7 linked regions of the Homo sapiens genome follow. The protein of the gene in region 1 purifies or fractionates together with the protein of each later gene. This does not show direct contact. Each region holds a gene or a part of one and is shown in the gene's direction. Other genes may lie near its edges.

Region 1 (4,346 bases):
TTAATATGGAAAGTGCCTTGGAGCTGTCAGCTGCAGCTGCCACACAGAGTGGTGCCCCCAACAACGTCTGTACCACAAATCGAGCTGTTTCTCCCACCACCTCCAGTCCATAATGTTATGGCCGAGTTTTTAGGAAATGGCAGAAGTGAGTGTAGACTCTTAAGAATGCTGTTAGAAAAAGCGGATTCATCCAGTTCTTACTTGCTCAGTCAACAGGTGACTGCATAGGAAAGTGGCTTGCAGGGCTTTTCTGTGTTTCTTATCTAAAGTCATTCTCTCCTGACTTTACATTTCTGCTTAACAGGCACTTATATCATCTTTGCCAGATGTTTCCTGAATCTGCAAGTGACGCTATCAAATTTGTTCTCCGAGATGCGATGCATGAGATGGAAGAAATGATTGAGACCAAAGGCCGGGCGGCATTGCCAGGGTTGGATGTGGTAAGCAGAGTTCAGTCTAGGCACTGCCCCTGCCACAGAAGTTCTGTTTGGCATCACAGAAGGTGGACGACGGGTACGATGCTCTTGGCTGTACCCTGTGCTTCCAGGGTGATGTGGAGTGAGCTGCACGGCAGCGAGGGTGATCTGGAGTGAGAGTGCACGGCAGTGAGGGTGATCTGGAGTGAGAGTGCACGGCAGTGAGGGTGATCTGGAGAGTGCACGGCAGTGAGGGTGATCTGGAGAGTGCACGGCAGTGAGGGTGATCTGGAGTGAGTGCACGGCAGCGAGGGTGATCTGGAGTGAGAGTGCACGGCAGTGAGGGTGATCTGGAGTGAGAGTGCACGGCAGTGAGGGTGATCTGGAGTGAGAGTGCACGGCAGTGAGGGTGATCTGGAGTGAGAGTGCACGGCAGTGAGGGTGATCTGGAGTGAGAGTGCACGGCAGTGAGGGTGATCTGGAGTGAGAGTGCACGGCAGTGAGGGTGATCTGGAGTGAGAGTGCACGGCAGCGAGCCTGGGAGGGGAGGGCACTCCTCCACTAGCCATGGACTAACGTGTGGGTCGTGCAGGGAGATTCTGGTTTGATTCCACGTGAATGGTGCTGTATTTGGTCCAGTGACAAAAACATTGGAAGGCAAATAGAACCACGGTATTGTCCTTAAGGGCCCAAGCCTGTGGGCTGGTTTAAATTGGTCTCGGTTTCTATGTTATTCAAAGGTTGGGAGACATTTGTACGCTGAGATTTTTAACAATTTTATAACAGCCTCATGCTGTATTTTCAGCTTTAGTAACTTTAAGGAAATACTTGCTGAGATACGCTCTTTATTCTGTTGCCTGGTGTTTGTGTTGAAATGGATTCACAATAGTTAGCAGAAGCTTAAAAATGTAGGACTTAGGTTAGTGATTTTTAATCAACTCCCCAAAACATGATCTGAGCCCGTGTCTATAACCATTGTTGACTGCTTTGAAGTCTTCATGGGCCTCAGTGTCCTCACTGCACGTTTAGCTGGTTGACCCACGGTGGTTGGACGCCTGTTCTGTGACACTGAGGCCAGAGCTCTGGGCCAAGGAGATGCACCCTCTCCTCGCCAGATCCTGTTCTTGGCTCCGGAGTGTTTGCGGGGAGGGCATATGGATGGACTTCATTTACCTTCTTTAACCTGTGGTAACACTTTCTTTCCAGCTCATTTATTTGAAAATCACTGGGCTGCTATTTCCAACTTCCGACTTCTGGCACCCAGTGGTGACCCCTGCCCTCGTGTGCCTCAGTCAGCTGCTCACCAAGGTGCGTTCTCTCCACATGCGGCAGGGGTCGGCCTGCTGCACCACGGGTGGCCGGAGCCACAGCCCCTCGGGGCCTTGTGGAACATGAGTGTGGCTGTTTAAGGGCTGCAGAGACCGAGCACTGCGGTTAGGCCAAAGAGGGCCCATCTAAAAGAGCCCCGGCTCGAGCAGCCCCAGATGTGGGTGGGAGTGGGAGGGCCTGGTTTGGCACCTCAAGGTTACAGATGGTGCTACCCCAGAAAACAACCTTTCAAGTTAGTGGTGAAGTTATCCAGTGTGATGATAAGGGCTTTTGTTCCCTTTTTGGCTTAAAAAGTTCAAGCTGTTCCTTTTTCTTTATTAGGCATGTGATTGGTACATGCTTAGTGCAGTAATCGTACGCTCTGTATGGGTGGAAGGAACTTTATAATCAGTATAGCTCTGGCCAGGCGCGGTGGCTCACGCCTGTAATCCCAGCACTTTCGGAGGCTGAGGCGGGCGGATCACCTGAGGTCGGGAGTTCAAGACCAGTGTGGCCAACATGGCGAAACCCCGTCTCTACTAAAAATACAAAAATTAGCTGGGTGTGGTGCCACATGCCTGTAATCCCAGCTACTCGGGAGACTGAGGCAGGAAAATCACTTGAACCCGGGAGGTGGAGGTTGCAGTGAGCCGAGATTGTGCCATTGCACTCCAGCCTGGGTGGTAAGAGTGAAACTCCGTCTCGGGAAAAAAAAATCACTAAAGCTCTTTATCTTGTTTTCATCTCATTTGATGCTCTCGACACTGCTATAAGGTGCGGGGGTTCCCTCTGTACTTGTGAAGCTCAGTGGGGTGCGTGGTTCATCAGGGAAGCCCGGTGGTCGGCCTAGCATGGCATGACATCGTCCCAGGACAGTAACCCCCCATATGTTCCTTTCCAGTGCCCCATCCTGTCCCTCCAGGACGTGGTGAAGGGCCTGTTCGTGTGCTGCCTGTTCCTGGAGTATGTGGCTTTGTCCCAGAGGTTTATACCTGAGCTTATTAATTTTCTTCTTGGGATTCTTTACATAGCAACTCCAAACAAAGCAAGCCAAGGTGAGTTGATTTGAGGGAGGTTCCTACAAATATGTTATACTTTAGAATTTTTTTAAGTAGTTCATACTCATTGTAGAAAGTTTAGAATATGCGAAAGTAGAGGAAACACACAACCTGCCACCCGCCGCACTGTCTGTCCCTCTGTGTGAGCGTGTGCACGCGCCACATGGGGAAAAGCAGTGCTACCGGTGACCTGTGCTGTCCAGCGTGGTTGCCAGGGGCCAGAGTCTGAACTGAGACGTACCCTACCTGTGACATATGCCCAAGTGGCGAAGACTTAGTGTCAGAAATACTTAAAATATCTTAATTTTTTGTATTATGTGTTAAAATCATAATATTTTGGTATTTGGGGTTAGATAAGGTCTATTGTTAAAATCAATCTTAACTTTTTACTTTTTCTCACGTGACGACAAGGCAGTGTGAAAGTTCTCGTGCAGCTCACACAGGCCGCGCTGCTGTGTCGCTTCTCTTAACGCTCTGAATTCAGGAGCGAGGGCGGCAAGAGCAGTGTTGGGATGAGGAGCAGTCTGCACACTGGCTGCCCTCCTGGGCCCTCACCCCAGCCCCTGTGCTCCTCCCCCTTCCCCTGATGCCAGCCCTGCTCCTGGATGCTTCCTCAGCACTTGCTGCTTCCCTCTGGGGGGTGAGGAGCTGCACAGCCTCTTCCTGAGCTCTTCCATGTCTGTGGACGCCTCTCCCAGCCTGACCAGAGGTTGGACCTCAAGGCTCAGACCCCTGTCCTCTATTTCCAGCTCACCGTGCAGTGCTAAGCGCCTGCATGTCCAGGGGACTGACCTGAGGAGCAGGTGCTGTGGCATCATTCACACCACCAGCAGAGTCCCTTCCAAGAGGGGTCTGGCCCACTCTTCCGGTTCAGTGCTCCCATTCTGCCACCACCTGCCTCCCAAGGCTCCTGTCTGTCAGGCTCGGTGCTGGGCGCCAGAGGGGCGCGGCCGCCCACATGCTCCCTGCCTCCGGGAGAGCCACCTGTAGATAGCTGCAGTCCCACGTGTGAAGGGCTGTGACGGAACAGGCTGGGCACAGGTGGAGTCAAGGAAGGGGTGGGCATCTCGGCTTTGGGGAAGTGTGGGGCGGGGCCTGACCCACGCCTTCCCCTCTCGCTTGGCCCGGCACCTCTGCCCCACTGTACCCACTCTCCACCCCTCCCCGTGTAGCCACACCCTCGGCCTGGATTGCCCTTCTCCGTGGCGAGTGAATTGACTCCTGCGTCCTACAGGCCTTTGCTGACGTCTGCCCCTCAGGCCTCTCCCGCCCTCCACCGTCACCCCCGACTGACTCTCCTGTCTCCCTCCTGCCCCTCCACTTTCCTTTCTCGTGTTCTGTCTGGTCCATTTGCTCCTCTGGGTGCTGTGCACTGCCTGTCTCCCCGACAGGGGCAGGGACTTCAGTCTGTTCCCGGATGTGGCCTGAGCGCCTCATCAGCCCCATGTGTGCCTAGTAGGCCCCAGGAAGTCTGTGGCCAGCAGGCCTCTCAGGCAGGATCAGGCACTTGGCTCTCACCGCGCCCCCTGCCAAAGCTTTTCCCCTCCCCTGAGGTGTCCCTGCC
Region 2 (4,346 bases), on another chromosome or scaffold:
ACTGATTAATGGGACCAGGCGCAGTGGCTCACACATGTAATCCCAGCACTTTGGGAGGCCAAGGCGGGTGGATCACGAGGTCAGGAGTTCGAGACCAGCCTGACCAACATGGTGAAACCCTGTCTTACTAAAAATACAAAAATTAGCAGGGCGTGGTGGTGCACGCCTGTAATCCTAGCTACTCAGGAGGCTGAGGCAGGAGAATCACTTGAACCTGGGATGGGGAGGTTGCAGTGAGAGGATCGTGCCACTGCCCTCCAGCCTTAGTGACAGAGCAAGACTCCGTCTCAAAAAAAAAAAAAAAAAAGATTACTGATGGCTGGCAGTGAGAATGTGCTTCAGACTGCTTTGGGAGGGGCTCTTTTGAGCATGACATGCCTAGCACCATGGGACTTAGTTCTCCCTCCACATTTCTTGAAAGAATGTAGCCTCTGAAGTTAGATTGCCTGGGTTTTATTCCTAGCTCCCCCCAGTTATTATTGGGTAGGTCAGTGTCTCAAACCGTCAGCTTCCTCATTGTAAAACATGACAATAATAGCACCTACTTATGAGGGTTGTTTTGGGGATCATGAAGTAACCCATAAAAAGCACTTAGCATAGTGCCTGGCACGTAGTAATGTTCAAAAAGTATTAACCATTGACATTATCGTTACTAACTTATTATGCATAAGATGTGTTCGTGTAGCCTGATGGCATTTGGCTTTCACTTTATCAGAAAGATAAAGGCACATTCCAGGATGGAAATTGTATGGTAGTACTACTTTATGAGTTAGTCATCTAGATCTTTCATGTTATTTATTCATTTACTTTTCTAGGATTAGCATTCAAATGAAAGCATTACAGTTTTTTTGTGGGTCTCATAGTATGAGGCTTATTATCTCAGTCTACTCCCGAGTAGCTAGGACTACAGATGCATACCACCACCCCCGGCTGATTTTTGTATTTTTTGTAGAGATGGTGTTTTGCCATGTTGCCCAGGCTGGTCTTTAACTCCTGGGCTCGAGCAATCTGCCCACCACAACCTCCCAAAGTGCTGGCATTACAGGCGTGAGCCACTGTCTGAAAGTAGCTTAATAAATAGCTCTAATATTAGAAGTTTCAAGAACTAGGCCGGGCACAGTGGCTCATGCCTGTAATCCCAGCACTTCGGGAGGCTGAGGCAGTAGGATTACCTGAGGTCAGGAGTTCAAGACCAGCCTGGCCAATGTGGCAAAACCCCGTCTCTACTAAAACTACAAAAATTAGCCAGGCGTGGTGGAGGGCACCTGTAATCCCAGCTACTTAGGAGGCTGAGACAAGAGAATTGCTTGAACCCGAGAGGCGGAGGTTGCAATGAGCCAAGATCGTACCACTGTACTCCAGCCTGAGAGACAGAGTGAGACTGTTAAAAAAAAATGAAAAAATAAAAAAAGTCCAGGTGCGGTGGCTCATGACTGTAATCCCAGAACTTTGGGAGGCCGAGGCAGGCAAATCACAAGGTCGTGGGTTCGAGACCAGCCTGGCCAATATGGTGAAATCCTGTCTGTACTAAAAATATAAAAATTAGCCGGTCATGGTGGCATGCGCCTGTAGCCCCAGCTACTTGGGAGGCTGAGGCAGAAGAATCGCTTAAACTCAGGGGGCAGAGGTGGCAGTGAGCCAAGATCCCGCCACTGCACTCCAGCCTGGGCGACAGAGCGAGACTCCGTCTCAAAAAAAAGAAAAAAAAAAGAAAAAAAGAAAGTTTCAAGAACTAGGCAGGTGTGCCGGGCACAGTGGCTTATGCCTGTAATCCCAGCACTTTGGGAAGCTGAGGCGGGTGGATCACAAGGTCAGGAGATCAAGACCATCCTGGCTAACATGGTGAAACCCTGTCTCTGCTAAAAATACAAAAAATTAGCCAGGCGTGGTGGTGGGCGCCTGTAGTCCCAGCTACTCGGGAGGCTGAGGCAGGAGAATGGCGTGAACCCGGGAGGTGGAGGTTGCAGTGAGCCGATATCGCACCGCTGCACTCCAGCCTGGGCGACAGAGCCAGACTCTGTCTTAAAAAAAAAAAAAAGAAGAACTAGGCAGGTTTGTGGAGAAAAATTTGGCAAAAAAGTCTTTCATCAATGTGGAGATTGCACCACCCAGCAGCTGCCTGGCCCTCATATACAGATTGGGTCTGTCCTTCTGTTGTGTGCCTCTGTGTGTCTACATGGGCTCATGCTTTTTATTGTCACCTTTACAGTCTAGTCTAGGTGGCAGCGTGCCCAGGTAGTGGTTTTGTGAGAAGAGGGTACCATGATGTGGGTCAAATAGGTCTTCCTAGTTTAAATGCACTCAAGGGCTACATTGAGCCATTTTGTAGTAATATCTTCCTTTCATTTGTATAAATTCTCTAGAATATGTGTGGATAATTTCAGCAGTCTAGATTTTCTCTCTTGTTTTCTTGTTTTGTTTTTTTTGTTTTTTTTTGAGACGGAGTCTCACTCTGTTGCCCAGGCTGGAGTGCAGTGGCGCAATGCCGGCTTACTGCAACCTCTGCCTCCCGGGTTCAAGTGATTCTCCTGCCTCAGTCTCCCAAGTAGCTGGGATTACAGGTGCCTGCCACCACACCCAGCTAATTTTTGTATTTTTAATAGAGACGGGGTTTCACTGTGTTAGCCAGGCTCATCTTGAACTCCTAACCTCAAGTGATCCGCCTGCCTTGGCCTCCCAGAGTGTTGGGATTACAGGCATGAGCCACCACACCTGGCCAGATTTTCTCTCTTTACCCTTACCAGATGGTGGTCTTTGTTTTTTATTACTGTTGGATAACCTAATTAGTTTTGTTTTCACCATACTTGAAACTGATTTCTTGTTCATGTCTCTTCTTTTCTGAATTCTGTTTCTTATTTGCAGCTGAATTTGTGATCAGTCTTGCTGAGAAAAATACCACCTTTGATACTTTTAAGGCTTCTCTCGTCAAAAATGGTGCAGAATTTACGGTATGTATATGTGGAGAAGATAATCTGTAGATATTAATGTTTTAATTTATGTTTGTTTGTTTGTTTTTTTTTTTGAGACAGAGTTTTGCTCTGTCGCCTGGGCTGGAGTGCAGTGGCGCCACCTCAGCTCACTGCAAGCTCCGCCTCCCGGGTTCACGCCATTCTCTTGCCTCAGTCTCCCAAGTAGCTGGGACTACAGGTGCCTGCCACCATGCCCGGCTAATTTTTTGTATTTTTAGTAGAGATGGGGTTTCACCGTGTTAGCCAGGATGGTCTCGATCTCCTGACCTCGTGATCCACCCGCCTCGGCCTTCCAAAGTGCTGGGATTACATAATTTATGTTTTAATGTCACTATTGATTTTAAATTTTGATAGGGTTTAATATAGGATTTTGATATAGGAAGGAGACAATTTTATACATATCAATTAAATAAGCCATTAAGTGTGTAATGTTTTCATGCCATTAAGTAGTGATGATTTAACCAGATTTTCTGTGATACCTCTAGGAAAACAGGGCAGGATTTTCATCATTAAGTCTTTGTAGGTATTTACATTCTTGTTCTGTGAGTCAGGAAGTTGGAAACAAGTTTTGGGGGTAGTTCTAAACCTTGGGAAATAAAATGGTTGCAGGGAGCCTAATAACTTTTCTCCCCAAAGAGTCCTAAATATCGGCTTTCTCTGAAGCTATTATACTAGGTTCATGCTACACCAGGTTGACACACTATGTTTCATGTATTCCAATTAGCTAAATTCAAGTGCGTAACCACCCTTCCCTACAGGACATTCTTTGCCTTTTAAGTGTATTTAAGCACTGATATGGGAGCTGACAATTTTCGTTCTATGTTTCTTTTCAAAGGATTCTCTTATTAGTAACTTGCTGCGTCTCATACAAACCATGCGGCCTCCAGCGAAGCCTTCCACTAGCAAAGGTAAGCAGAGCTTCCAGCTGAGCTTAGCTTCTAGAATGGTGTAGGTTTTGAACATCCTGTAAATTGCATTTGTTTTCCTCTCAGCAGTTGCTGAGCAAGTAAATGTTCCAGTAAGATTTTTCAAATGGGCTGGGCCTAGCGGCTCACTGCTGGAATCCCAGCACTTTGGGAGGCCAAGGTGGGAGTATCACTTGAGCCCAGGAGTTTTAGACCAGCCTGGGCAACATAGAGAGACCTCATCTCTACAAAAAAATAAAAAAATTAGCCAGGCATGATGGCGTGCCTCCGTAGTTCCAGCTACTTGGGAGGCTAAGGAAGGAGTGTTGCTTGAGTCCAAAAGGGTGAAGCTGCAGTGAGCCATAGTTGCACCAATGTACTTTAGCCTGAGTGACAGAGGTTTTTTTCCCCGTTTCAAGGGGAAAAAAAATTTCAAACGACTTAAGACAAAATAAAAAAGATAAGACATAAC
Region 3 (4,346 bases), on another chromosome or scaffold:
GTCTTTAAAAGAGAAAGTAAAAAGGAGGGGAAAAAATGAGTAGGACATGGTGAAGGACCACAAGTCTAATAGTACTATTTGTTTTATTGGGGCCACCCCATGCCCTGGGTTGGTTGTCCACACTGTGGTCACAGCCTTAAACAGTTCTGGAATCATAGCAGTCTCTCCATTGGTTGGCTACTTGTCTTCCCTCTTTATGTTGGTTTTTTTTTTTTTTTTAAGCCGTGGAGGGTTGGGAGAGAAATAGGCATTTTATTTGATGCTGATTCCCTGTAGCTGCCTCTTCCTTTCCTTGTGATTTTTGCCAGGCAGGTGACTGGCCTTTCGTTTGTGTGGTTCATCTGCAGTGCCCTACCCGCTTCCTTTGCTCTTGCCAAGGCCAGTGGAGAGCTCCTAGCCAGATCCTGCTGTCATCCCTTCTAGAAACCGACTAGACTGTCTCCCTGATCCTGACTTCCTAAGCCCTCATGCCCCGCCTCCTCCTCCACCTTTCTTTGAAAGTTGTTTTTTCACTTCTCCTTTGTGCAAGTGGTTTGTTTGAATGTATAAACTTTTTTTGCTGTATATTTTTTTTAGTCCTCTTAATTTCCCCCCCGTTGATGGTTTTACCATTACAATGAAAATGGAAACAGCTGACATTTAGCCAGCCTTGCCTATAAACGCGGCTCTAAGTGATACAGATTAACCACCAAGGCAGCTCCTAGAGAGGGAGAGAGTTATTTCCAGTGTAGAGATGAGGAAACTAAAGCACGGAGACATTGAGTAGCTTCCGCGAGTTGCCTAGCAGTGTAGGCAGAGATGGGATTTGAATCCAGGCTGTCTGAGCGTAGAACTGGTCTTGTAAACTGTCTATAAATTACTCAACCAAGCGCATCTTCCATGTTTTTCTTCTATAAATAGGGATGAGGTCAATGTCTTTGCACATATCGATGCATCCATCCAGGTATTTTTCTCAAATAGAACAAATTCCTCAAAATAGAATTACTGAGTCAGGGAATATGCCTTTTAATTTAATTTTTTTTGATATTGCCAAATTGTCCTTCATAAAATCTGTCGACAGTACATGAGTGTGCTCAGTACCCCAAAATCCTGGCCGGGTCTACATATTTTTGTACATTTTGCCCCAAAGAAAGGCATCTCATTTTGGTGTTCATGTGTTTTGTTACTCGTGAGCATGAATGCCTTGTTGCTGCTGTTGGTTGTTCTATGCCTGCGTTCATGTTTGCATCCTTTTTCCCGGTGTGCTCACGTCTCTTCCAGGTCTGTAGCGTGCTTTGTAAGTGAGGGATGAGCTTTCTGTCCTTGTAGAGATTTGTCCTTTTCTCCCACCCACCTCCCGGGAGAAAAGCTGTGGGTCACTGCTTTCACTGCACAGCACAGAGTAGAGACCCTGGCTTCCCCCAGCAGGGTGGGGGCTGGGGCTTAGGCTGAGCGGAAAAGGACAGGAGGAGGATGGACTGCTGGTCCCCTTACTTTCCCCTAGTCACCTTCCCTCCTTCCAGGAAGCAAGGGCTGGGAGCAGCTAAGAGAAGCTAGGATTTCTTAGGAGAGCTTGACGCCTATTGGTGAGGAGGCATTGGAGGGGGAACATGCCCCTTACTCATGAACTGAACAGATATTTCCCGCCAGTCCATCGTTGGTTTTTTTAACCTCACGCTAGTCTTTTTTGCGGTGGAGAAGTTTTTCTTGTTCATGGCCCTATCTGTTGAGCTTTCCCAAAATAGCTTCTAGTAAGTGTTGTGTACTCCAAGCAATCTGTCCTCGTTATTTTTCTATTTTAACTGGTGCTTACTCTGAATTTCTACTTTTAGTCTTTTGTGTTAGAGTTCCACTTTGAACCCAACGACTACTTTACCAACTCAGTCCTGACAAAAACCTACAAGATGAAATCAGAACCAGATAAGGCTGATCCCTTTTCCTTTGAAGGTCCTGAGATTGTGGACTGTGACGGGTAAGAAAATGTCATTCTACCTTGTTTTTCTGAAACAAAATCAAAAGATAATTTTGTAACTTGATGGGTAAGATAGAAGTAAGGAATAAAGTACAGTCTTGAGTCTGCTTAAAAGCCTAAAAGCCTGGTAGATGTATATTTCAATAGTCTTTCAGTTTGGGAATGCTCATAGTGCAGAACTTGGAGATGGCGGCTGAACCTGGGAAATGAGTCACGTGGTTGCACATGCAAGCCTTTGGGATAGTGCCCTGTTTCTTCATTTTAATGAAAGTAGTGGATTCTCTAGACATCGTGAATTGAAGTTCTTAAAATTGAATCCATGGATTACCCTCAGCAAATAAATACTTATTGAATGAATGAGTCTGAGTCCAGGGCTATATTGATCAGCTGATTGCTTTGGAAATAGGTGGGGGCAGCATAGCTGTTGTTTGACTCACTGATTTCAGTCTTTATAAATCACTAAAGAGAGAATTTGGTTTAGAATTAATTTCTCCAGGTTGGGTTGACTGAGAAATGGTTTTAGTCTTGACTTGAAACAATTACGTTTATTTACCAGAAGTAAATAGTAATTGTTAATTCAGGACTTTATTAAAATCCTGCTAGAGTAATTTAGAAAGATGATTTTCCAGGGCCAGGACATCATGTGAGAAAAAGGCCTGGCCTTACCAAGCATGTTCTTAAGCGGGCAGTATTGAGATCTGCCAGGTGTTGCCTGGGTCTGTGGTGATTGTGTGTTAGAGAGAGCGTGCTGTGCTCAGCCCTCGCCAGCATCCCTGGGGCTGGAGTGGTCTGCACTGGCCATCAGTATTCCCGGTGGCCACCTCTTTCCTTTTTTCAGCTTGTCGTGCTCAGTTGGCTGCTTTGAACAGCAGCAACTCCTCCTTCCTTGGGAAACCGCGGACAAGTTCTTGTGCATCATGCAGACTTGACGGGGCTTTGCCACAGAATATACATTTCAGAGTCCTGATGAAATGTCTTGGGAAAATAATACCATTGTTCCAGAAGTCTGAAGTTCCAGTGGTCACACCCAAGTTGAAAGAGGACCAGGCTGTTTCTCTTTTTGCCAACCTCCAGATGAACTTCATGGGCCATTGTATTTGGTTTGCAGATTGGTTTTATTTCGTTTTCCAGGTTTGGCATAGAGCTGTGGTTTGCTTCCTGCATGCATTTGTAATGGATTTTTCTCATGGATTGTGTGTTCCTGACAGCTGTCTTGTCCTGGTAGGTGTACTATTGACTGGAAGAAAGGAAAGAATGTTACTGTCAAAACCATCAAGAAAAAGCAGAAGCATAAGGGTCGAGGCACTGTTAGAACAATTACGAAACAAGTACCCAATGAGTCCTTTTTCAACTTCTTCAATCCATTGAAAGGCAAGTCTGTTGGTTGTTAATATTCATTATGTTCTTATATAAAATAATTTTGGTCACCTGATAGATTCCTAACACCCAGAGACTTTAGTCCTCTTTTTTCAGGCAAGTGTGGTCAGTAGGGGCACATTGCTGTGTCCCAGGCTGTTCTGTTGGTGCGCTGGCAAGTTTATCGCGGGGGGCAGAGGTAGCTAGGACAGTAAGAGTAGGATTGTCATCTTCTGCAGGAAAGGGAAGAGCTTTACTCTGCTTGGCTGTAGCCCAGGCAAAAACTTGCAGTTCTGTTTTAAGAAAACTGAATCGAGTATTTGCACCTGGGCTGCTTCCTCACTTGGACACCTGGAGCACCCTTCTCCACCAGCTGGCATTTCTGCCCCGCTGTTGTGTCTGGTTCGCACCCCCCGGGGACCACTCCCAGCCTCGGAGAGCTGCTGGGTTTGCTCTGCAGGTACCCGTTACTGCTGTACGCTGGTTCTAGTTGTGCTGCTTTTGGATCATCTGCTTAGTCCCCCTTTTCTTGTAATTTTTTATGCATAATTTGATAGAATTTTTTGGAATTTATATATTGTAAGAAACACAAGTAGTTGGGACTTTCATTTTTGAAAAACATCGGCAGAATCACAGCTTGGAAGCTGCTTCTTTTTGTTTATTTATTTATTTTTTAAATTTTCCTAAGTGGTAAAATAAAGATGAGACCTTTGAGCTAGTAAAGGTTGACCAATTGATTTTAAGAGTAAATTTCTTGGGATTTTTCATATAATTTCCTAATCGCGAGAAAATGTGAAGGTCAAGCAACTTGTCAGTGTTAAAATATCCATATTCTCTTTAGTTTCCATGAACTAAAACATAATTTGAAGTGAAGAGATGCCAGCCCCTGCTGCAGATAATCAGTGAGTGTTTGTTTGTATGTGGGGCCACAGGGCGGATCTCTTCTCCAGTCTGAGTGATTGATTTTTTGATTTTGTCTCTGAGCTTAGCACCCTTATTTATCAAGCTGCCCTTCAGAGTTCAGTCCATTATTTTAATT
Region 4 (4,346 bases), on another chromosome or scaffold:
TGAGGGTAAAAACTACTGTTAGTGCTTAGCACATGGGCTTGAGGCTAACAGAGTGACTGAGTGACCGAATGAATGAACACACACAATGTACTCTTTTAGAAACTACTTTTCCCATTTTTTTGGTCTGTCTTTCCCATTGAATATAAAGGTATATCTATCAATCAACATATTGAGCTGGGCACATATGGATTACAGAGACAGCCTTAAAGGAGTTTACATTAAAATAGATGAGATGAGGCATTGTTTATGAATAACACAATTCAGCAGAGACTAGCATAACGGAGGAGAAATTATATCCAGTTGAAGCTATTAGAAACTGACACATTGACCTGAACCCCGAAAGAATGAGGAAAATTTTAATGAGCAGTGATTCAGAGGTGGAAGAAGATAGAAGCTGTATGAACAAAGGCACAAATTTGGGGAAATACAGGCCATGCTACTGGAGCATTGAGTGGTTTCTTTTGGGTAGACTTCATAGTGTGTGCGTGGGAAGGAGCAGTGAAAGATGAAGGAGATGGGAGCCAAATCATCAAGGATACTGACAGTGGGACAAAGAATAGGCAACTTACAGAACCAAAGATTTTTGAACAAAGGAATGGTGTGATTTTATTTATTCCTTAAGTAGAAGACTACTTAAGGATATGAGAAAATTATAAGAGAAAAAATTACCATAAAGGAACCAATAAGAATAGACTGTTAAAACAGTAATGCCCCTATGGACAAGAAAAAAGCAGTGGAATTGGAAAAGAGGCAACAGATGAGAGATCATTAATTGAGGATGATGTAGAAAGCCAATACTTCTTTTGAAATACTACTTTAAAAAAAAAGACTGATAACTTTCACAAACATTACGAAAAATTCCAAAACATAAAGCAACTACCTTATTCAATATTTCTGTCAAATTGGTGATTTTTCCAACTCCAGCATTCCCTCTACATTCACCAGTCATCCCTTGGCATTCTGTTGTAAGCAAGAGCCTTCCCTCCCATCTCCTCCACTTATTTATTGGTCTTTTATCAGTAAGAATTATAAATTCCTACCTTCTCTGTGGCTTATAATTTATTACTGTAATGAATTATTTTGATGCTCAAATTGTCCTTGATTTGGCCAGTGGGAGCTCCTTCCAGCTGGCTGCTGTATTCTTGGCCCCATCATTCATTCATTCATTCCTCCCTCCGTCTCTCTCTCTCTCACTCGCTCACGCACTCTTGCACTCTCTTACCTTCTGGCATAAGATGTTCCAAGCTCCTCTTGTACCTGCCCTGCTGTAGCCTTGGAATCCGCTATTTCTCCAAAGAGCCCTGTTGAACATTGTTTTTAAACTATGTTAAATGACATACGGTGGGCAAGGGCCTCCATGACTAGGGATGTGGATGGGGCAGGAGAAAGAGCAGGCTCTGTGCTCTCATAACTCTCCTTGTCACTCAGGTACACCCTGGTGGGTGGTATGGCTAAAAACCACAGAACTGGAGATTCTTTTTCCCTAAAGATCGGGGTCTCATTATGTTGCCCAGGCTGTTCTCAAACTCCCATGCTCAAGCATCCTCCTGCCTCTGCCTCCCAAGTAGCTGGAACTACAGGTGCGCACCACCACAACCAGCTCTGGAGGGTTTTTTTCCTTATTTTTCTGAAGATTCTTTAAAAGAATATTAAGAATATACTTTGATTCTAACACTTAGAAAAATAAATAAATCATTTTACTTTTTGTGTAAAGTATACCTTTATTTTGTTTTGTTTTGCAAGGTGAGGGAGTTAGCATGGAAGAGGGATTGTGGTTACACTTTAAGATTTCATTGTCTCTGTAATTTCTTTACTTCACCCTTCAATCTCTGATTAACTCCTAATCATAGCTGTGCTCACTTCTGTTAAATCAGTATCACCCTTTCCCATTTCCATTCTTGATATCCCTTGACTTTGAAGAGATAGCTGATTTTTCAAATGTATTAATTTATCTTATAAATTTTTAGCCCTTTTTAAAATGAATTTTTCAAGTATTAGTATCTGTTTTATTTATTGCTGCCTCATTTTTAACTCTTTGTTTATGCTTTAAGGGTTACCATCATGAAAGATAAAGATACCAGGAAGAGTAAAGGGGTTGCATTTATTTTATTTTTGGATAAAGACTCTGCACAAAACTGTACCAGGGCAATAAACAACAAACAGGTAAGCTATTCATCTCCATCAAGGTTTTTAGCCCCAAAGCCTTTATGCTCATCCAGGCCAAAAATGTGGGGATATAGTGGATCATCAGGTCTAGCAGATATCAGTAGATTCTTAAGATATCTAACTTATAGAAAGAAAAGAGGTCAAACTACTGGGTTCTCAAAACATTGGTGGAATCTCAGGAATAAGAATACTACAGAATAGAATTTATCACACCTAAGTGACAATTGCTAAAAAATCCAAAATAAACTGGAATTGAAGATTTGAGAAAATTGATTAAATAATTAATTTTAGGTTTCAGTGAAATACATTCTACATTTACATTTTTCTCTTGTTTAGTTATTTGGTAGAGTGATAAAAGCAAGCATTGCTATTGACAATGGAAGAGCAGCTGAGTTCATCCGAAGGCGAAACTACTTTGATAAATCTAAGTGTTATGAATGTGGGGTAAGTAAACCTAAAACTTAATGGAACTTTCCATAGTTTAAGATACTTTTCACATCAGTCTTTTATTTTTGCTCACCAAAACTTCTGACTGGCTAAACCAGATTATGAAAATGCTTTATTTTTTAATATTTATTTTTTTGAGATAGGGTTTTCCTCTGTCACCCAGTGCAGTGATGCAGTCACAACTCACTGCAGCCTCTACCTCCCGGGCCCAACTGATCCTCCCACCACAGTGTCTGAGTAGCTGGGACCACAGGCATGCACCATCACACCCTGGTTAATTTTTAAATTTTTTTGTAGAGGCAGGGTCTTCCTATGTTGCCCAGGCCAATCTCAAACTCCTGGGCTCAAGCAGTCCTCCCACCTCAGCCTCCCAAAGTGCTAGAGTTACAGGTGTTAGCCATGGTGCCTGGCCTAGTTGTTAGGGTCTCTAAACTCATCAAAGTAAATTCAATTGAAATGCAATGTGTAAAGATAACCTGAGTTGGGTAATACAAAGTGGTATTTTCTCTAGTTCCTAAATCTTTGAAAATCACTAGTTTTAAAAGTGTTAGACTGATTACTTATGTCACTGTCTTGCAAGATTTTCGTAACTCATAAATTTTTGTTAATAGGATATTGCCTGTTTCTTTAACAGTTTTTAAGTCACAGTTCAATAGCAACATTATCATGTGACTTTATCCTCTATGGGATATTGTGTTTTGAAGTTTTTTATTTTTTCCTATTAGTATTGCTAGTGTTTTGTAACTGAACTATCCCCACATTTTCTTCTTTGGTTCTCTTCATGATCTGTCATTATCCATTTAAAGTTTTGGTGATGAAGAGAGAGAGACAGCCATAGAATAATTTTGTATAAGGTCTGTATTGGTACCAAGAGAATTTTAGTCTGGTTCTCACAGGTGTAAGTTTGTAAAATGACCATAAAAATACTTAAGAAACAGGCCGGGCACAGTGGCTCACGCCTGTAATCCTAGCATTTTGGGATGCTGAGGTGGACGGATCACTTGAGGTCTGGAGTTCAAAAGCAGACTGACCAACATAGTGAAACTGAGTTTCTACTAAAAATACAAAAAAAAAATTAGCCAGGCATGGTGGCAGGTGCCTGTAATCCCAGCTACTTGGAAGGCTGAGGCAGGAGACTCGCTTGAACCCAGGAGGTGGAGGTTGCAGTGAGCCGAGATTACTCCACTGCACTCCAGCCTGGGCAACAGAGGGAGACTCTGTCTCAAAAATAAAAATAAACATAAAATAAAATACTTAAAAAACAGAGTCCAGAGGTAGTAATGGGGAACTGGGGAGAGAATCACTGAAAGATACCGTCCTGGCTACAAAATCACATGGAAGATGCAAGGAAATGGCTTGAGGTCCTCTACCCCACTGTCACTCCCCATACCCCCGACAAAAAAGATAACTAAATAAACAGACTGATGGATGGATGAATAGAAAGAGTGAGCAAGCAGTTGCTTGGATACATACTGATTCTGTCAATTCCTATGATTCTAAAACCTCTTAAGTAAACACTTTAGAAACTTTTCCAAAGTTTTGAGTTTTGTAAAAGAAAGAAAGGGAGGGAGGGAAGGTAGTTATATTCAGATTAGTATATATCTTCATATTCACAGTAAATATTAAATTATCTGAGAAATCCTAGATGAATCTGTTAATCGGTTCCTTTTGGTTTATGGATCCATAGAGTTGTTATATTTTTTACATTTTTATATTTAATTTCCCTCCCTCCA
Region 5 (3,500 bases), on another chromosome or scaffold:
GTCTTGTGCCTCTTGCCTCCTCTGGATCCTAGGAGTTCTCTTCATTCATCAGCGATAGAAAAGTAATGGAAGATTGAATGTGAGGTTTTTATGGTCCAGGCCTTTTACTCACATTTTATTGGCCATAACTCAATTAGCCATGTGACCTCACCTAACTGCAGCAGGAATGGAAACTATATTCTGATTGTATGCCTAAAAGGAAGATAATACAGGATTTGGCAGAAACATGTCAGTATGCCCCATTTATACCATATATTCACAAACACAGGATAACTGTAAATATAAGACATACCTACATTTTCACAATGAGACTATCCAAATAAAGGGTTTTTTGTGCTTAGCTTGTATGCTTAAAATATTTACTAGTTTATTTACATATACAACTCTATGTAATATATAAAATAATACATTCATTTAGAAATACTACCTTATTCAAATCTCAGTTTTTATGAAACAGGTTTTTGTTTTGTTTTGTTTTGTTTTTTTTATTTTTATTATTATTACACTTTAAGTTTTAGAGTACATGTGCACAACGTGCAGATTTGTTACATATGTATACATGTGCCATGTTGGTGTGCTGCACCCATTAACTCGTCATTTACCATTAGGTATATCTCCTAATGCTATCCCTCCCCACTCCCCCCACCCCACAACAGTCCCCGGTGTGTGATGTTCCCCTTCCTGTGTCCATGTGTTCTCATTGTTCAATTCCCACCTATGAGTGAGGACATGCGGTGTTTGGTTTTTTGTCCTTGCGATGGTTTGCTGAGAATGATGGTTTCCAGTTTCATCCATGTCCCTACAAAGGACATGAACTCATCAGTTTTTATGGCTGCATAGTATTCCATGGTGTATATGTGCCACATTTTCTTAATCCAGTCTATCATTGTTGGACATTTGGGTTGGTTCCAAGTCTTTGCTATTGTGAATAGTGCCGCAATAAACATACGTGTGCATGTGTCTTTATAGTAGCATGATTTATAATCCTTTGGGTATATACCCAATAATAGGATGGCTGGGTCAAATGGTATTTCTAGTTCTAGATCCCTGAGGAATCGCCACACTGACTTCCACAATGGTTGAACTAGTTTACAGTCCCACCAACAGTGTAAAAGTGTTCCTATTTCTCCACATCCTCTACAGTTTTTTTTAAACTTTTCATCTCTACAGCCACTCTTTGAATATTGTAACAGATTTCTAGAGCACATGTGATTTGTGTAAGATAAGGGTTGTTTTGATTTCTGTCTAGATAATGTTTTGTAAATATTATCCCAAACAGTGCACTGGTTTATATAACATTTTTACATTTGTTTTCTTAAAGAGGTCTTTAAAAGGCTTCTGACAGGCCGAGCACGGTGGCTCATGCCTGTAATCCCAGCACTTTGGGAGGCTGAGGTGGGTGGATCGTCTGAGGTCAGGAGTTCGAGATCAGCCTGACCAATATGTCTCTACTAAAAATACATAAATTAGCCAGGCATAGTGGCACATGCCTGTAATCCCAGCTACTTAGGAGGCTGAGGCAGGAGAATTGCTTGAACCTGGGAGGTGGAGGTTGCAGTGAGCCAAGATCACGCCACTGCTCTCCATCCTGGGCAACAGAGCAAGACTCCGTCTTAAAAAAAAGAAGTCTTTTGACAATGATTCCTAACTTGCAATGGAGAAATTACATAGTCATAGGACTGATTAAGAAGTCTATATTAAGTTTTTTTGTCTCTCTTTTTCTTTCTGATTCCATCTCCTAAGTTCTGTAAGCAACTAAAATGTGCATTGATGCATATCTTTTCATACTAGTGTATCTTCGCCAAATAAGACTTGGTTCAAAATCATGTAAAATGTTAAGATACTATATGGACTAGAATACAAGTTGCCACCTTCATATCTGGAGATTAATGTTACAACTAAAAAAGAACTTTGTCTTATATTCTTGAGTAGACTTAGTACTATTTGCCTTGTAATAACCACTTTTGGTTCAATAACAGACGGGAGTGGAATCAACTTATAGCCTTTAAAAATGAGTAAGCACTATCAGTATTGTCAGACTCAGTGGAGTGTCTTAGCTAAGATGTGAATTTTCTGGCTACATCTGCTTCATGTACACAGATATCATAAGCTAATGATGTTCCTTTGAAAATACATGATGCCCTTCTTTTTTGCCTTCCATGCTAGTACAACAGAGTGATTCCTTTCTTTATGTTGTTATAAATAAGACAGCACAGCATAAATTAAGAGGCACTCAATAAACATCTACTTATAAGTGTTAGAAAGCATGTGTGTCAAAATTGACTACTTGTATATAAATTTTCAACTTCAAACTATTCCCTGTTAGACTTCAGTTTTAAATTGTGAAATATTCCATTTAAGAAAACAAAATTTCTTTTTTTAACATTGGTTTGAAAAAGATGAAATTTACTTCTCCTATATGCTCTTTAAGTATATAGTTATTATTATTTTTGCTTTCTCTTCCTAGATTTTCCACAGAATGAGCCTCAGATCAAGAATCAGTTTAATAAGAAGCTATCAGGAAGACTTGAAAATACAAAACAGCAATTGCAGCTGCCTCTTCATCCTTCATGGGAAGCAAGCAGAAGGCGAAAAGAACAGCAATCTAATATTGCTGTGTTTCAGGGGAAAAAAATTACGTTTGATGATTGATTAGTGCCTCTTTCTGCAAACTTTTCCATCTAAAAAAAAAAATGTTTTTTTTAAGACAGGATCTCATTCTGTTGCCCAGACTAGAGTACAATATTGCAATCACAGCTCACTGCAGCCTCAAACTCCTGGGCTCAAGTGATCCTCCCACCTCTGCCTCCCAAAGGGCTGGGACTGCAGGTGCATGCACTACCATGCCCAGCTTTCTCACCCCAGGCTCTGCAGCTATTACTTAAACTCGTATTTGAATAAGTCTCTTGGGGAGAATTATAGAATGTTTGTTTTTGTATTTTTTTTTAAAGTAAATTCAACTTACGCTTATATAAGCCTTTCACAAATCCAATATGTACTTAAATTGATTTTTAATAATATCCCTCAGACTGTTTCCCTTATGAAGTAATTTGGGGATTTTAGTGATCTCATATTTTCTCTTTAGTGCTTATCATGAAATGTGCTTCACTGGTTCAGCTCTGTTGTTTCCTTAAACATAAATGTCAATATATATTTAAAATAATAATGGAAACATAGGAAATCAGCTATTTAAACCAGATCACCCTTGTTAAAAATCATTCTTGTTAGCAAACTAAAATAGTAACTTTTATTATGGATGTACAGATAAATATTAATTTTATTATAGTTTTAAGTACTTGTGATCATGTACTTTTTGATTCTAAAATAGTTGTCTAGGACAATTTTGGGATTCTTAATTATATTTTAGTTAAGAAAATTGTTTAAATATAGCAATACAACCAATAATTTGTTTTATGTTTCACTGCATATAAATATTTCCATTAAATCAAGAATGTATATTATCTAGTTTTTACTATACTTATTTTAAAATTTTTGAGGAA
Region 6 (4,346 bases), on another chromosome or scaffold:
AAAAAAGGATTAAACTTTTAAATAACTCTGATGAAAGACTTCAAAACAGCAGGGCCAAAGATCGAAAAGATGTCTGGTCAAGTATTCAGGGACAGTGGCCTAAAAAAACGCTGAAAGAGCTTTTTTCAGACTCTGATACTGAGGCTGCAGCTTCCCCACCGCATCCTGCCCCAGAGGAGGGGGTGGCAGAGGAGTCACTGCAGACTGTGGCTGAAGAGGAGAGTTGTTCACCCAGTGTAGAACTAGAAAAACCACCTCCAGTCAATGTCGATAGTAAACCCATTGAAGAAAAAACAGTAGAGGTCAATGACAGAAAAGCAGAATTTCCAAGTAGTGGCAGTAATTCAGTGCTAAATACCCCTCCTACTACACCTGAATCGCCTTCATCAGTCACTGTAACAGAAGGCAGCCGGCAGCAGTCTTCTGTAACAGTATCAGAACCACTGGCTCCAAACCAAGAAGAGGTTCGAAGTATCAAGAGTGAAACTGATAGCACAATTGAGGTGGATAGTGTTGCTGGGGAGCTCCAAGACCTCCAGTCTGAAGGGAATAGCTCGCCAGCAGGTTTTGATGCCAGTGTGAGCTCAAGCAGTAGTAATCAGCCAGAACCAGAACATCCTGAAAAAGGTGAGAAGGAAAATGTGTATGTTGACTTATTTTAGGGTTTCCCCTCTTAAAGTTTCAATGATTTCACAGTATCTCTTGTTATAACCTGAGGCGATTAAGTGTCATATTTGTGTGAACATGGTAAAAATGGAAATTTTAAAGGTAATTTGAAAATGAATAGTGGAATGCATTTAAAAGCTTGAGAAGGCTTTAATGTGCTTTGCTTGAGCCATCCATGGCATTTTATTGTGGACCAGAACACATGCTAGAAATTGCACCCAGGCCCAAATCCAAACCTGTTTGAGAATTCATTATATGCAGTGGTTGACTATATGGCATGAGCAGCTTAAATCTATTTCTGTAACATTGTTTTTGCAATTGTAATGTGCAGTTTCTCACGAACATTTTGATTTATTGACAGACCCCTCCACCCTTAACCAAATACTGTATGTAGGGGTTTGGAGCAACCAACTGTCCAGGCACTGCTTTCCTCAGACAACCGTGTCAAACTGATTTTCAAGCCTGACTAACTTGTGTGAGTTTGTAAAGGAATTTGATGCTTTCTTAGATGCATAGCTTCCAAATTGAAGGACCAATGTGTACGTTAATAACCTACAGTAATACTTTTTTGATTTTCCGTGAAATTGTTAAAAGTGGAAATTCAAATCGGTACCTTCCCAAAGTATTAGTGCCTTTCGATGGTGCCATAGCCATACTTCTGTCATCATTTTTCTTATAAACCACTTCATTCAGGTATCTTTAAATCAGTATACTCTAGGCTGACACCTGGCTTTGGAACACACTTTTCCATCGTAAAGACAGAGCACTGGAGTATGTTTTTTATATACCGTAAAAGATTTTAGAATGCTAGCTTTAGGTTTTCAGCAAAGCTTAAAGAGATATGGTCTAGATCAAATTAGTTAATTCTATGTTTTCTCAGGAATCTTGACTTAAAACATTTCTGTTTTAAAATAAATTAAAAAAATACTTGCAATTAAATTGAAATGTTCTTTGCTTTTTTTCACATTTACAAGTATAACTACTATGATTTTATCTGTGCCATACTATCTCATGCAACTGAACTATCCAGGCATGACTAATCTTCAAAATGAAAGAATCCTTTATTTCAGAATATTAGGCTTTCAACAGTAAGATTTTACTGGCCAGGTGTGGTCACTCACACCTGTAATCCCAGCAATTTGGGAGGTCTGGGAGGTCAAGGCGGTGGATCGCTTGAGTCCAGGAGTTCAAGACCAGCCTGGACAACATGGCAAAACCCCATCTCTACCAAAAATACAAACGTCAGCCAGCTGTGGTGGCGCATGCCTGTAGTCCCAGCTACCTTGGGGGCTGATGAGGGAGAATCACTTGATCCCGGAAAGGCTGCAGTGAGCCAAGATCACGCCACTGCACTCCAGCCTGGGTGATAAAACAAGACCCTGTCTCAAAAAAAAAAAAAAAAAAAAAAGAAAAAACAAGAAAAGAAAGAAAAAAACAGGTTTTATTGTTATAGGTTTTCTTGGGGGTTTTTTTTTTGAGATGGAGTCTCGCTCTGTTGCCCAGGCTGGAGTGCAGTGGTGTGATCTGGGCTCACTGCAACCTCCGTCTCCTGGGTTCAAGTGATTCCCCTGCCTCAGCCTGCTGAGTAGCTGGGACTACAGGCGTGTGCCACCATGCCCAGCTAATTTTTTGTATTTTTAGTAGAGATGGCATTTCGCCATGTTAGCCAGGATGGTCTCTATCTCTTGACCTCATGATCTGCCTGCCTTGGCCTCCCAAAGTGCTAGGATTACAGGCATGAGCCACCGTGCCTAGCCTATTGTTGTAGTTTTTAAGAGGTTGTATCCTTATTATGTTCGTAATATCTTACAAAAGATTAAAATTAACAACAAAAAAAAAGAGGATATCTTCTCTGCTAATAGACTAAGTCAACACTGCCCTTTTGAATCTTAATCTTGACTAGGTTAATAATTGTGGAATTTGAAAGCTACTCCTAAATTTAGGGTAATTTATATCTCTTTAGAAATAATTGGTGTTTTTCTTTTTGTTGGGTTTTTTTTTTTTTTTTTTTTTTTTTTTTGAGACATAGAGTTTTGCTCTTGTTGCCCAGGCTGGAGTGCAGTGGTGCAATCTTGGTTCACTGCAACCTCCACCTCTCAGGTTCAAGAGATTCTCCTGCCTCAGCCTGCTGAGTATCTGGGATTAACGCCCGGCTAATTTTTGTATTTTGTTTAGTAGAGATGGGGTTTCGCCATGTTGGCCAGGCTGGTCTACGAACTCCTGACCTCAGGTAATCCACCTACCTTGGCCTCCCAAAGTGCTGGAATTACAGGCATGAGCCACCGCGCCCAGCCAGAAATAGGTTCTTAAGCACCTGTTTCACATGGCCACATTTTAATAAATTTACTTACTATGAATATTGGAGACTCCCCACTATATCACAAGTTAAAATTTAAGTTTTACTATTTAGATGTAGTTTTTTCCTCTTAATTTACTCTACATTGAAGGTTTTTATTTCTTAGTATCTGAACACTTTAGAATTAAACTCTCTTGGAGAGAAACCTGACAATTATGGTTCTGTGCTTCAGTATGGTCAATATCTACGTCTCCTTTATGTTTCACTTAAATTGTGATATTAAAATGACATTAGGTGGGTCACATACTTGGTGTAAAAAATAAAAAAGAAATATTAAAAATTTAAAAAGGTATTAGGAAAAGTTGTAAGTAAGATTATATGACCCATTAAAAAAAAGCTAGGAAGTTGCAGACAGTTAATTACTTGTCCTGTTTTTGATCAAGGAAGTTAGGTTTTATACACAGAAGGTTGATTTGGTGTCTGACATTGGAACTGAATGGAGATAGTACTTTATTAGTCTCTGGAGAAAAAATCTTACTTTATATAGTCTGAGAGATAACATATATGAATTAGACAGAAATATAGCAGATGTTAAGGACCAAATGAGTAGTATAGAAAAATGCTACAGTTCAGAGTAGTGATTGATCAGTGAAGCCTGGAACATCTTAGTGAAGATGTAGGACTTGGGCTAGTCCTTGAAGAAAAGGGAGACATTTATTTGTAATGTTTTGCAATAATTTCCCACCAAGAAGATGAGACGTTTTTTAGAACTACTATGTTGGATTTGTAAATGGTATGCATGTTAACCAAACAGTGCCCTGGGAGCTTAGTTATTCTTGACATAAATTGGTAAAAAAGAACCAAGTATGAATTACTGCTAAAATTTACCTCATTTATATCATTTAAAAATTATATTAATATGATTATAAGACATAATGTCATTAACATTTTAACCTGTGATTAAGTCTTAATATTTTGGTTTTATTGAATCTTAACAAATTTCAGTTTTTATTTTCAGCATATACTTTTAATTACTAGGCTTATAAACTCCCAGTACTATATTAAGGACTATTTTCAGTTTATATCTGATTTTTTTAAAGAAGGATGTGCATACTTTGTTTGCCTTTTTAAAAACCCTGACTTTTATTATGTATAAGAATTGAGCTTCCATTAATGACAGTTTATTTAAAAATTGTAGTAAGTTCTGTGACAACTTATAAATGTCATAAAGAACATGTAGTTTTGGATTGTTCTATGTTTCTAAAATGTGGAATTAATTTATACTTAGGGAATGTTGGATTTTATTTTGTGTTACTTAATTCCTTTCCCTTCATAGCCTGTACAGGTCAGAAAAGAGTGAAAGATGCTCAGGGAGGAGGAAGTT
Region 7 (4,346 bases), on another chromosome or scaffold:
TTGCCACACTTCACGTGTCCACACTTTTCAGAGTATGTGCTGTTCTGTTTTCCAGATGAGCAGAACTACATTCTCCGAGATGCTGAGGCAGAAGTACTTTTCTCTTTCAGCTTGGAAGAATCCTTAAAACGGGCACACGTTTCTCCACTCTTTAAGGTACACTTTAAGGGAAAAGTAAATCAGTCCAAGTAAGCATAACACACGGACCTGCTCAAGGGAACTACCAGGTGATTTGGTGGGAAGTGCGCCTCCAGGGGAGCTGGGCTCACCCTGCATCCCATTTACCTCTTGGCTTCCTTCTTGGACATTGCCACTGGAGGTCTTCCTCCTGTGAACCACAGCACATCTCTAGAGAACTTTTCTTTACTATAATGTTTAAAAATAAGTACACAAATTTAATAAATACATCTATGAGAAATAAGTTATTCAAAGAATAGGTTTTTGAGTAATTGGTTAAGAGGCATGTTCATTTTTCTGCTTTTAATAAATCTTTAGAGGACATCGCTTACTTCGTACTATTGTCAGTAAATGTATATTCAGCTGGAGAAGATACTTGGGAAAATATTCAGTGTGTGCATAGATATAATTCAGTACTAAAAGATTTTTAAATGTTAGATAAGTGTTAGAACAGCTAGGAATTTTTTTTGTACCAAAGAACTAAGTAAATCAATAAAGATAATCGGTTCTTTAACCTTCTTAAGGAGTCAACAGGAATTAGAAATTATTTGCAGTTTCAGACAGAATAGTATTTTGTGGTATCCTCAGGAGCAATCTTGTTAGATAATTAAATCTTAAGCATCAATATCATTTCCTGCTCTGAGTTCAAATAATATGGAGAAAATAAAGAAAAGGGATATAAGCCAGGCAGCATGCTATGCCAGAGGCTGTTGCTGGGCAGATAAGTGTGGTGAAATATAATGCTGATTTAAAATTGTATAGAAATTGTGAAAAATATTTGTAATATTCTTGCTTATTCACAAAACACTTTGTTTTAGGGACTTAAGTTCTGGTTACTTTAAATCATCTTCAGGCATACTTAACATGTGAAAATGCTTACATTCCAAATTTACATAGCTGGATTCCTCTTCCACTTCAGATTGAGTGCTAGTAGGAGAATAGTACCTTCATAATGTCATAAAATTTGAAATTTTGTCAAAAATCTCAGGGCAGAATCTATGAGAATTATGTACTCTAAAAATTAAAGCATTTTAAGAACATAATACATATATTTTCATTTAATTTTAGGCAAAATATTTTTACATCACACCTGGAATCTGCCCAAGTCTTTCCACTATGAAGGCAATCGTAGAGTGTGCAGGAGGAAAGGTGTTATCCAAGCAGCCATCTTTCCGGAAGCTCATGGAGCACAAGCAGAACTCGGTGGGTAGAGTGGAGTCCGCCAGCGAGTCCGTCATTGCCCTGTATCACATTCAGCGTTCGGTCACTGAGAAACTCATTTTCTTTTCCTTAGAGTTTGTCGGAAATAATTTTAATATCCTGTGAAAATGACCTTCATTTATGCCGAGAATATTTTGCCAGAGGCATAGGTACGTTTCCCCGCTTACCTGTGTGAGTATGTGTGCACGCACAGCAGTGGATCTCTAACTAAAGTGTCTGTTTCCACCCTGTTCAGATGTTCACAATGCAGAGTTCGTTCTGACTGGAGTGCTCACTCAAACGCTGGACTATGAATCATATCCTTTCCAAAAGAGAATTAAAAAGTAGACGGGTTAGATATGAAATGGATTTCCCAGGTTAATAAGGCAGTACCTTTCCTGTTTTGCAAGCCATTTTTCCTTTCTTTGCTATTGTGATTTATGCAGTGAACAATTCTTTTCTCTTCAGAATATTCATTTGAGTTGCTAGTAAAAATATTCTCTTAACTTACTGAGAGTTCAGTTTTAATAGGTGATGTTAATTAGAAAGGATCTATACTGTCTAGTTTATGGAGGTATTAAAGAATTTGACAATTAGATAAAATAGAAAATAATTGCAAAAATAAATATATGTTTCTTTTTATCAGCTCACCTTTGAGTTTGTAGTTTTCCAAATGAAATTTAGTTCGTATATAGTCTTTGTACTCAGGAACTTTGGGATGGGAGATAAATTACTACTAAATGGAAGCGGCAGAATGAATACTTCATCAACATGTCAGGAAAATGCAAAGGTCAGTCTTTAGAATATTGACACCTAGGCTTTTTTCTATTTCAGACATTCAGGAAAAAATAAAGCTCATCATCTGTTATTTGAATTCCTTATTAAAAATCTCTGAATTATTATTTTAATGTAGGAACAGCCTATCAGTGAAGCAAAACATGCCTTACAGGTCCTTATGGGAAAATTCTGTTTCCACTTCCGTTTCCCATTGCAGAGCACCTTCTCTCAGGGCTGTTCTCAGGACTTCTCCCTGGGCCTCCTGCAATGAGGCTGGAGCTCCTCCTCTCTGTGAGGGTGGGAGCCTCTGCCACCTCTGACCAGTGTCAACCTCAGTGGACCTTTCCTTAAGCAGGGGAATTTTGTGTTTGGGATAGGACTGCTTCAGTAAGGCGCAGAGGTCAGAATGATACCCATCCTTGCCGAGTTTTTTTTTCTTCGTGTGTGCCTGTTTCATCCAGGTAATTACATTTAAGTATATTTACATTTAAATACACTGACATTCATCCAGTTAATTACATTTATCAAACATTTTCCTCTTAACGCTAAAGAGCTTATGGTTATAATAGTAGACAGAAGACCTTGATATCACTGAGAGAAAAGCACTTTTAAGAAGTAAAATTTGGCCGGACGTGGTGGCTCATGCCTATAATCCCAGCACGGGAGGCCAAGACAGGTGGATCACCTGAGATCAGGAGTTCGAGACCAGCCTGGCCAACATGGTGAAACCCTGGCTCTACTAAAAATAGAAAAAATTAGCTGGCCATGGTGGCGGGTACCTGTAATCACAGCTACTTGGTGAGGCAGGAGAATCACTTGAACCTGGGAGGCAGGGGTTGCAGTGAGCCAATATCGCGCCATTGCACTACAGCCTGGGCAACAAGAGCGAAACTCTGTCTTTAAAAAAAAAAAAAAAAAAAAAGAAGTAAAATTTGCCTCAGTCCCAGAATCCAATGTCATGTTTAGCCATAAATAAATAGCCTGTCTAGTTGGAATGAGGCTTGGTGCAGAAACGCTCTTACCATTCATACCAGAGCTTGCTGTATTCCATACCGCCATCTATTAGAAAATTATTGTAGGAGCTACTGATAGGAATGATAAGAGGCCTGTTAAATTTTTACAGATATGCTATAAGCATTTGGTTTTTATACAACATGTACTCTTGCATTTTTTCCAGACTTTTTCCTAACATTCATGTTTGTATTTGTGAAAGCCTGTTCTACACTACATTTACTTTCAGAAGAAATTGCTTTAAAAGTCATACAGGAGACTTATGAGTATTACCTTGGGGGCCTTTTTTCATATCCATAGCTTGATGAATTTTGCCCAAAGTGGACGGTTTAGAATTGCAGAGGTCACTACCTGCTCCTGCAGGTATAAGTAGGAGTCAGCTATTTGTGGTGGGGCTTTGGGGATGTCAGCTCTTGGGGGTTGTGTGTTGTACATGTTAATTTAAAGGACATTTCAGCTATTGCTGGGCCTCAGTTCTGGCCGCATGGTGGATACCTTGCGGAGCTGGCACAGGTGCTGATGTCCCCGGGCTGAGTGAGCCTGTGTGTCGGGGCTGAGGGCCTCCTGTGATGTGGGTATGCAGCAGAGCGACTGGTTTGAATGGGTAAGAAAGAGGCTGTAGCATTCCTTCAAGGGTGTCTCTGAAACTGGATGATGAATGTTGGAACCCTTGGTTTCATGTTTTTCTTTTGCCTTGTGTTTGAAAGTCGTTTTCCTCAACAAGCCTACATATAAGTTTAACTGATGGCGTCTAGGCTGCCGTGCATGTCGACTCCTGCGGTGCGGGGCTGGCTGTCTGGCTGGCGAGGAGCTGCTGCGCTTCCTTCACATGCTCTTGTTTTCCAGCTGCTTTCCTGGGGGATCAGACTGTGAAGCAGGAAGACAGATATAATAAATATACTGCATCTTTTTAAGATGTGCAATTTTATTCTGAGGAAACATAAATTATGTTTTGTATTATATGACTTTAAGAGCCCACATTAGGTTTTATGATTCATTTGCCAGGTTTTTAAATGTTTTCACAAAACTGTTACGGGACTTCAACTAGAAATAAAATGGTGTAAATAAAGACCTTGCTATCTCTAAATTATGGATGTTAAAGATTTGAAATGTTTTGTACTTTGATTATTTTTATTTCTTATACTCTGTTTTCTTTTATATTGATATCTTGCCCACATTTT

The links.
Region 2: the proteins of NOP14 (region 1) and DHX8 purify together in Homo sapiens (co-immunoprecipitation; one large-scale study listed by IntAct). This does not show direct contact.
Region 3: the proteins of NOP14 (region 1) and NAP1L4 fractionate together in Homo sapiens (co-fractionation; one large-scale study listed by BioGRID). This does not show direct contact.
Region 4: the proteins of NOP14 (region 1) and ZCRB1 purify together in Homo sapiens (co-immunoprecipitation; one large-scale study listed by IntAct). This does not show direct contact.
Region 5: the proteins of NOP14 (region 1) and SRFBP1 purify together in Homo sapiens (co-immunoprecipitation; one large-scale study listed by IntAct). This does not show direct contact.
Region 6: the proteins of NOP14 (region 1) and ARID4B fractionate together in Homo sapiens (co-fractionation; one large-scale study listed by BioGRID). This does not show direct contact.
Region 7: the proteins of NOP14 (region 1) and PAXIP1 purify together in Homo sapiens (affinity purification with mass spectrometry; 2 studies listed by BioGRID, with this or other methods). This does not show direct contact.

Annotation. Positions count from the first base shown.
Region 1 is NC_000004.12:2,942,506-2,946,851, reverse strand, and holds part of NOP14 (nucleolar protein 14), read left to right. Parts: intron 1-304; coding exon 305-440; intron 441-1,622; coding exon 1,623-1,724; intron 1,725-2,625; coding exon 2,626-2,779; intron 2,780-4,346. UniProt on the Homo sapiens protein: Involved in nucleolar processing of pre-18S ribosomal RNA. Has a role in the nuclear export of 40S pre-ribosomal subunit to the cytoplasm.
Region 2 is NC_000017.11:43,486,587-43,490,932, forward strand, and holds part of DHX8 (ATP-dependent RNA helicase DHX8), read left to right. Parts: intron 1-2,862; coding exon 2,863-2,948; intron 2,949-3,804; coding exon 3,805-3,877; intron 3,878-4,346.
Region 3 is NC_000011.10:2,957,375-2,961,720, reverse strand, and holds part of NAP1L4 (nucleosome assembly protein 1-like 4), read left to right. Parts: intron 1-1,811; coding exon 1,812-1,951; intron 1,952-3,176; coding exon 3,177-3,322; intron 3,323-4,346. UniProt on the Homo sapiens protein: Acts as a histone chaperone in nucleosome assembly.
Region 4 is NC_000012.12:42,315,604-42,319,949, reverse strand, and holds part of ZCRB1 (zinc finger CCHC-type and RNA-binding motif-containing protein 1), read left to right. Parts: intron 1-2,051; coding exon 2,052-2,163; intron 2,164-2,502; coding exon 2,503-2,610; intron 2,611-4,346.
Region 5 is NC_000005.10:122,024,475-122,027,974, forward strand, and holds part of SRFBP1 (serum response factor-binding protein 1), read left to right. Parts: intron 1-2,467; coding exon 2,468-2,652; 3' UTR 2,653-3,500. UniProt on the Homo sapiens protein: May be involved in regulating transcriptional activation of cardiac genes during the aging process. May play a role in biosynthesis and/or processing of SLC2A4 in adipose cells.
Region 6 is NC_000001.11:235,177,866-235,182,211, reverse strand, and holds part of ARID4B (AT-rich interactive domain-containing protein 4B), read left to right. Parts: coding exon 1-627; intron 628-1,027; coding exon of another isoform or gene 1,028-1,119; exon of another isoform or gene 1,120-1,141; intron 1,142-4,298; coding exon 4,299-4,346. UniProt on the Homo sapiens protein: Acts as a transcriptional repressor. May function in the assembly and/or enzymatic activity of the Sin3A corepressor complex or in mediating interactions between the complex and other regulatory complexes.
Region 7 is NC_000007.14:154,943,713-154,948,058, reverse strand, and holds part of PAXIP1 (PAX-interacting protein 1), read left to right. Parts: exon of another isoform or gene 1-55; coding exon 56-156; exon of another isoform or gene 157-161; intron 162-285; exon of another isoform or gene 286-366; intron 367-1,206; exon of another isoform or gene 1,207-1,245; coding exon 1,246-1,380; exon of another isoform or gene 1,381-1,466; intron 1,467-1,471; coding exon 1,472-1,547; intron 1,548-1,565; exon of another isoform or gene 1,566-1,633; coding exon 1,634-1,694; exon of another isoform or gene 1,695-1,699; intron 1,700-3,438; exon of another isoform or gene 3,439-3,894; coding exon 3,895-3,910; 3' UTR 3,911-4,346.